Regions from separate parts of the Homo sapiens genome. Here all the other regions are linked to region 1. Evidence: fine-mapped expression QTL. A gene starts in region 1. Each other region holds a variant in brackets. All regions are shown on one strand. Distances are between the middles of the regions. Region 1 holds the start of NIM1K (NIM1 serine/threonine protein kinase). Region 2 overlaps ANXA2R-OT1 (ANXA2R overlapping transcript 1). Region 3 overlaps NIM1K (NIM1 serine/threonine protein kinase).

What was found. PIP is the estimated chance that this variant, and not a neighbour inherited with it, causes the effect.
Region 2: its variant is the best candidate, but not a certain one, in a credible set for the expression of NIM1K in lymphoblastoid cells (TwinsUK, PIP 0.63).
Region 3: its variant is the best candidate, but not a certain one, in a credible set for the expression of NIM1K in lung (TOPMed, PIP 0.64).

What each region holds. Positions count from the first base shown.
Region 1 is chr5:43,190,797-43,193,296 of GRCh38, forward strand. NIM1K (NIM1 serine/threonine protein kinase) reads left to right here and starts at 1,429. Exons shown (of 4, transcript NM_153361.4): 1 at 1,429-1,615. RefSeq lists a silencer at 1,270-1,409 and an enhancer at 1,745-2,454.
Region 2 is chr5:43,053,066-43,055,909 of GRCh38, forward strand. The region is part of intron 2 of ANXA2R-OT1 (ANXA2R overlapping transcript 1); the gene reads right to left. Among named protein-coding and RNA genes, the nearest start is that of ANXA2R-AS1, 12 kb to the left of the region's middle. The variant G/C (reference allele first, on the strand shown) is at 1,591.
Region 3 is chr5:43,243,397-43,246,240 of GRCh38, forward strand. NIM1K (NIM1 serine/threonine protein kinase) reads left to right here. Exons shown (of 4, transcript NM_153361.4): 2 at 1,686-2,671. The coding sequence starts at 2,380. Among named protein-coding and RNA genes, the nearest start is that of NIM1K, 53 kb to the left of the region's middle. The variant A/G (reference allele first, on the strand shown) is at 1,348.

The DNA of each region.
Region 1 (2,500 bases):
GGGGATGTCTCTTTAAAAACAAATTTTCTCGAGAGAACCCTTGTTCTACATAAATAGATGACCACTCTCAGAAGCCAAGGAAGCAGTTGTTTCAGGTTCTTTCAATTTTCTTTCCAATCTCAACCGTCAGTGCACGGAGCTGTCCAAGGTTTTTATTTCTTGCCCTTCCCGTTCCTGACCCCTTTAATCATCACACAAACAGGCAGCAGAGACAAAGTAATGAAGAACACCAACTCTGGAGTCAAACAAACTGGGTTAGAGTCCCAGAGCCAGCATTCAACAGTTGTGTGATCTCGATCAAATCCTGTAACCTCTCTGGGCTTCAGTTTCTTCATCTATCAAAACAAGGATGACAGTAACAGTACCTAACCCATAGATTATCATGAGGATTTAATCAGTTACTCTTTGTAAAAGAGTTTATTACAATGCCTGGCAAATAGCAAAAAAGGAATTTTGGGGTTCCCTAGTTTCTACCATAAAAGAATTGTAGACATGGGTTATGTTGCTACTTAACAGTTTTGCTCTTGTAAATATTGCTCTGGCAATCAATACAGGATGGAGAGCAGGAGGAAGTAGAAAGAATGCTCGCAGAACTATGACTTAGGGTGTCTAGTCCTGGCTCTGCCATTAATCAGTTGTGTGACCCTTGCTAAGTTAACTGACCCCTCTGAACTCAGTTTTTTTTTTCTCTCTCTGTAAAAGGAAGGGCTTAAACTTCAGTAAATAACCGGTATGTTTTATTTAGTATTTTGCGAATCCCATTTCCAACTCTACGTTCAATCCAGTGACGGTATTTCTAGTTTATAAACTAGAAAAATAATCTTTGGCATCTGAGGGTCACAGCCGAGAGTATCTCCCTAGCAGGAGATTAGGGAGCCAGTGACAAAGTGGCACCAGGGGAACCGATGTATGCCAGGAATCCAGACAGAGGGTGACATTAGCACTTCTTTCTGCAGAACCTAAACCCTGCCCGACTCACCCGGAGGAGCTGTCACGGTGGTTTGCTGGAAACCCCCTTTCTGTTGGGAGGATTACTGGGTCACGGTTTCCCAAGGACATGGAAACCCTTGCTGAAGCGCTGGAACCGCTCGGCACGAGGCGTACGTCGGTGGGAGCTGTGTCAGCCCGCTTTCGGCCGTGTAGCTGCTCCCATCCAGACTCTAGAAGGGGTCCTCTTTGCGTCAGGCCCAATCACCCCCCTCCCCGAGCGACTGCACTGGGTGTCCCTGCGCCGCGCGTCCCCTCCCTCTCGCCCCTCCCTCCTGGCTGCCATAGAAACCAGCTTACAAGGTCCAGGCCGGCGTCCGGGTGCACTACAGGCCCCCCGTCCCTCCTTCCCCACGCCAGCCCCTCGCTCCGGATTGGTCCTTCAGGAAACGCTGTGGGGCGTCTCGGTCCCCGCTGCGGAGCCGGCCTAGGCCGGAGGGCGGGGTTTGCCCTGGGCCGCTGCCGGTCAGGTCGGCCGCCCCTGACAGCTCCGGGAGCCTCAAGCGCGACAGCGGCGCCCTCACCTCGGGACATCCACACACCGACCGCTCCTGCTCCAGAGGCAACAACCCAGCGCGCCTAGCCTGGCGCCGTGCAGCGAAGCCCAAGAGCTGGCCTCGCCACGAAGGTAAGCGAGGGGCTGGGGGACTCGCCGCCAGCACCCCCACCCCGCCACCCTTCCTCTGCTAGGCTGCAGACCTGGGTGGCTGAGGAGGAGGCGCCTCTCCTCCCCGCGACCCAAGGAAGAAAGGAAGCCCTGCCACGGGGTGTCTGCGAAGTGGGGTCAGAAGAAGGTTAGGCGCTTTCTGGGGCGTACCCCCACACCTGCCCAGGCCGATCCGCAAGCGAGAGGAGGGGGCATTAGAGCCAGGGCGAGAGCGTGCTCGCGCGTGTGTGCCCGTGTCATGTGTGGTGCCCGTGTCATGTGCGGCGCCCATGTCTATGTGCGCGCGTGTGTGCACCCATGTCTCTGTATGGTGTGGACACTCGTGTCTGCGTGCGCGTCCACACGTGAGCCGAGGAGCGCAGCTTAGCGCCTAGCGTTGCGCACAGCGGGTGCGCTGGACCAGAGCCCTAAGGCACCAGACCAAATCTGGAGCGTTTGTTACAAGGGCAGAAGACCGGCGTGATCTCCCCACGCGCGCCGGCCGGTGCTGCTGGTGGAGAGAACTGACATCTAACGCATGTGGCCCAGGAGAACAAAACCTTCCATTGCACCCCACGCCGCGACTCTCCCCAGCGAAAGGTGCTTCTTTTGGAAGACCGCACGAAGTAAGGAAGAGCCTCTTTTCCTCTTCCTGGATATCCCTCCAGGAATATTAGAAGCTCCAGGACTCCTTGATACGACCAGGAAAAGATCGCAACCGGGTCTTTAAAATATCGATTCCAGCCAGCTTCTGCGTGCTTGACACATCTTGGCAGATGGAGAAGTCAAGGCAATAGATAACATGGGCAGCAAAGATTCTGCTATAGCACTTCTTTCCTTTCTGTTTTTTCCTTCCCTCCTTCCCTC
Region 2 (2,844 bases), 140 kb before region 1:
CACTTCTTTTCTTGCCTGATTCAATCATAACAACCCTGCTGACTTTCAATTGTGCCTACAATTTTCACCTTAATCCTATCAGGTCCTGAAGAAATTTTTCCAGATGAATTAGTGATCATCTCCCAACTATTTGGACTTTGGTGTCTGCCATTCTGTATATAACAGAACATACTATAAAAGCACAGTCTGTACTGGACAGAATCATTTACTCCCTTTCCTAGACCAGCCACGTAGCTTGGCCTGATCTGGAGGCTAAAATATGGAGCCCCATTCATCATCTTTGGAAGAGCTGTCTTGAAGGCAGCATGTCCAGAGCCCCACATGCCACCAGACTTAAGCCTAAAGTAAGCTGGGATTGGGCAATGGACAACTTCACTGCACTGAGCCACCACTGCCAATGTCCCCAGTTCTGTGCACATATGAAGTACAGTGCATTCAGGCTGCCATGCTGGGCTTACATAGGCTAGAGTCATTTCTGAAGTTTAAAGGGGACAAAAATGTTGTTGAGACCCACACTCTGGGGCCAATGGCTGAAACCACAGAAGAGCTACACTCACTTGAAAAATAAGTGTATGCTGAGATCGTTCGAAGATGGCTGAATAGGAACAGCTCCAGTCTAAAGCTCCCAGCGTGAGCAACACAGAAGACAGGTGATTTCTGCATTTCCAACTGAGCTTTGAAGAGAGCAGTTGTTCTCCCAGCATGGAGTTTGAGATCTGAGAACGGACAGACTGCCTCCTTAAGTGGGTCCCTGGCCCCCGAGTAGCCTAACTGGGAGACACCTCCCAGTAGGGGCCAACTGACACCTCATACAGCCGGGTGCCCCTCTGAGACGAAGCTTCCAGAGGAAGGATCAGGAAGCAACATTTGCTATTCTGCAATATTTGCTGTTCTGCAGCCTCCACTGGTGATACCCAGGCAAATAAGGTCTGGAGTGGACCTCCAGCAAACTCCAACAGACCTGCAGCTGAGGGTTCTGACTGTTAGGAGGAAAACTAACAAACAGAAAGGAATAGTATCAACACCAACAAAAAGGACATCCACACCAAACCCCATCTGTAGGTTACCATCATCAAAGACCAAAGGTAGATAAAACCACAAAGATGGGGAGAAACCAGAGCAGAAAAGCTGAAAATTCTAAAATCAGAGCATTTCTTCTCCTCCAAAGAATCACAGCTCCTCGCCATCAACGGAACAAAGCTGGACAGAGAATAACTTTGACGAGGTGACAGAAGTAGGCTTCAGAAGATCGGTAATAACAAACTTCTCCGAGCTAAAGGAGGATGTTCAAACTCATCGCAAAGAAGCTAAAAACCTTGAAAAAAGATTAGACGAATGGCTAACTGGAATAAACAGCATAGAGAAGACCTTAAATGACCTGATGGAGCTGAAAACCATGGCACAAGTACTACGTGATGCATGCACAAGCTTCAGTAGCCGATTTGATCAAGTGGAAGAAAGCGTATCAGTGATTGAAGATCAAAAGAATGAAATGAAGTGAGAAGTTAGAGGAAAAAAGAGTAAAAAGAAATGAACAAAGCCTCCAAGAAATATGGGACTATGTGAAAGGGCCAAATCTACATTTGATTG[G/C]TGTACCTGAAAGTGACAGGGAGAATGGAACCAAGTTGGAAAACACTCTTCAGGATATTATCCAGGAGAACTTCCCCAACCTAGCAAGGCAGGTCAACATTCAAATTTAGGAAATGCAGAGAATGCCACAAAGATACTCCTCAAGAAGAGCAACCCCAAGACACATAATCGTCAGATTCACCAAGGTTGAAATGAAGGAAAAAAAGGTTAAGGGCAGCCAGAGAGAGGTCAGGTTACCCACAAAAGGAAGCCCATCAGACTAACGGTGGCTCTCTCAGCAGAAACTCTACAAGCCAGAAGAGAGTGGGGGCCAATATTCAACATTCTTAAAGAATTTTCAACCCAGAATTTCATATCCAGCCAAACTAAGCTTCATAAGTGAAGGAAACATAAAATCCTTTACAGACAAGCAAGTGCTGAGAGATTTTGTCACCACCAGGCCTGCCTTACAAGAGCTCCTGAAGGAAGCACTAAAGGAACAACCGGTACCAGCCACTGCAAAACATGCCAAATTGTAAAGACCATTGGTGCTAGGAAGAAACTGCATCAACTAACAAGCAAAATAACCAGCTAACATCATAATGACAAGATCAAGTTCACACGTAACAATACTAACCTTAAATGTAAATGGGCTAAATGCCCCAATTAAAAGACACAGACTGGCAAATTGGATAAAGAGTCAAGACCCATCAGTGTGCTGTATTCAGGAGACCCATCTCACCTGCAGAGACACACATAGGCTCAAAATAAAGAGATGGAGGAAGATCTACCAAGCAAATGGAAAACAAAAAAAGCAGGGGTTGCAAACCCACTCTCTGATAAAACAGATTTTAAACCAACAAAGATCAAAAGAGACAAAAGAGACAAAGAAGGCCATTACATAATGGTAAAGGGATCAATTCAACAAGAAGAGCTAACTATCTTAAATATATATGCACCCAATACAGGAGCACCCAGATTCATAAAGCAAGCCCTTAGAGACCTACAAAGAGACTTAGACTCCCACACAATAATAATGGGAGACTTTAACACTCCACTCTCAACATTAGACAGATCAACAAGACAGAAAGTTAACAAGGATATCCAGGACTTGAACTCAGCTCTGCACCAAGTGGACCTAATAGACATCTACAGAACTCTCCACCCCAAATCAACAGAATATATACATTCTTCTCAGCACCACACTGCACTTATTCCAAAATTGACCACATAGTTGGAAGTAAAGCACTCCTCAGCAAACGTAAAAGTACAGAA
Region 3 (2,844 bases), 53 kb after region 1:
GATGGGTTTCAGAATGTCATCTTAAAATTGGATGCAAATTGTATGGGTGAGGGTTTTTTTTTTTTTCCTCCTGGGGATAAAGTCATAGGTTTTGTTAGCATCTCAAAGGAGTCTGTGAGCCCAGGATGATTAAGAATCAGTGATTTTGGCTGAGTACAGTGGTTCACACCTGTAATTCCAGCACTTTGGGAGGTAGAGGTGGGTAAAGAAAAGGAAGAAGAATCAGTGACTTAGATTTTCTTCACTCTAATTAAGGACCTTTACCTTTTTTGTTTGTTTGCTTTGCTTTGTTTTTTTGAGACAGGGTCCGGCATTGTCACCCAGGCTGGAGTACAGTGGCTTGATCTCAGCTCACTGCAACCTCCACTTCCTGGGCTCAAGCCATCCTCCCACCTCAGTCTGTAGGTGTAGCTGAGACTACAGGTGCACACCCTGCTAAGGGGTACACCACCACACCCTGCTAGGAGGTACAACACCACACCCTGCTAAGGGGAACTTTATCTTAAAAATGTTTTTAAAAAACATCCTAATTGGTCTCTAACCTAGAGATGTGCTTAGTTACTGATACCTGGTCCCTTTTAAGCCTGTGTTCATCATCCTTCTTCCAGATTCCTTTCTCTCTATCCAGAAATAGGAGCAGTACTGGGCATCAACCTCCTCTTTACTTCCCTTATTTATGTTTATTTGGCAACCCCATACTTAACCTTAAGTATAAGCTTAGGAAGCCTTATTTATACTTAATTGTAATAATGTGATATTATTGAGCAGAGTTGGAAATCCATACTTCCAAGGCAGTCTCTCATGTTTTCAGTCAAATTTTTGGTTTGGAATGCTCAAGTCCAAAAATCAAGTTTAACACATATTTACTTAGTAAACACTTTCTATATGTAAGAACTTATACTCCATTTTGAAGGAGAGAGGAGGTGAGCAGGACATACCTACAAGTCAAAACCAGTTCCCACCTTCACTGAGATGGGACATTTTGGAAAATGCACGAAGTGCTGTGGGAATTCAGAGAGGAAGAGAGTATTTCCTGCTGGAGAGTGCAGAAAAAAAACATCCCGATGACATCGTAGGTGGGCAGCATTTCTTGTCACTGGCAATGCTGTAAACCCTCCTTTTCCACATCTTCAAAATAAGGTGCTGGGCCTAGAAACTGACACCTGCTCAGAAAAATTCAAAAAGTGAATGTAGGAGGAAAAATCAGCCTTTGTCATAAAATGACATAGGAAGAAAGAGTGGAAGCAACTAGTATAGGACAAGTTGTGCAAGAACATGAAGTAGTAAAGGAGATAAAATATTATTATTTGAATAAATATGAGAAATTTTGAAAACCATTAGTAATCC[A/G]GAATCTTTCATCTTTGCTATCATATTATTTTTAAAATTTGGTTTTAAAGCAACACAAGGCAATGTGCATATTTTCTTAAACTTTAAGAAATAGAAAAATTGTTTTGCTAGAAATATGTACGGACCTTAGGGGCTTTTCTAAAATGTAGGTTGAGAGGTGTGTGTATATGCTCTTTTCTTCTTACTAGATCACATGTAATCAAGCATCTACTACTGATATGAGTCATAAATTTGTGGGGTACTTTTAGATCAATGCTTACAAAGCAGTTGCACATTCATTACAAATCCTGTACAGTACATTAGCATAGGCTAATAAATTTCTTACTCTCTATTCTTAGGTTGAACCAGCCAAATTTTCGAGACAGCTCACGGCTTAGAGGAAGGTTCATCTAAATAAAGGCCGGCTAAAGTGACATTGCAGGGATTAAATCCTTCTTTGGCTGCCTGTGTGACCAGAAGGCTTATTTGCAAGTTTCTTCTTTCCTGGGGTCCAGATTATTAGGTCTCCAGCGCCCTGCAGCTTGACAGAAAGAGAAGCATGAAATGAAGGTCAGAGATGAGATCCCGCAGCAGGGACGTGGGGGCCTCCCAGGGGCATTTACGCACCAGAGTGCAAGATTCTCTGGCCATCAAGGGAAATAGCAAACAGAAGCCTTTGTCCTGGGGCACAGCCACCTACCACAAAGCATCAGACTCCACGTCTGGCCAGAAAGTTCCTGGAGTCCCATCAGGCCAGTGGGTATGTAACATGTGCCTAATTGTACAGCTAGAGCCTGCAAGTTCAACGTGAGGGAAGGTGGGAAATGTCTTGAGTGAGGCGAGCAGCTCCTGGCTGGGCTGGGCAGACTCAGCTACCACGTTCACTGCCTTCCTCTCACTAAAGCCGAGAGGGAGGCTGCTCAGCTCTCAGGAAAACTCTTTTGAACCCTGGGCACCTGCTGTCCTCAGTTGGCATCTCCCACCCTCTGAGCCTCTTCTGCTCCTGCACAACCTGCCTCTTCGCTGAGATGGAGACGTGAGCCCCCGTGGACGATGACTGCAGTGTATATGAATGGAGGTGGCCTGGTGAACCCCCACTATGCCCGGTGGGATCGGCGCGACAGTGTAGAAAGTGGCTGTCAGACCGAGAGTAGCAAGGAGGGTGAGGAGGGACAGCCCCGCCAGCTGACGCCCTTCGAGAAACTGACACAGGACATGTCCCAGGATGAGAAGGTGGTGAGGGAGATCACGCTGGGGAAACGGATAGGCTTCTACCGAATTCGAGGGGAAATCGGAAGTGGAAACTTCTCCCAAGTGAAGCTTGGGATTCACTCCCTAACCAAAGGTAGGATCCGACTTCCCAAGGGTCATCCCTGGCAGTATTGGGACCTAGTGTAGGAAAGGGGTTAGGTGGCCAGGGCCAAGGAAGCAAGTAAAGTGACCTCAGCAGAGCCCCTGCAAGGCCCACATCCTGTGCCAGCCGCCTTCTGTGGTCTTCTCAGTTAATTTTCACAGTAA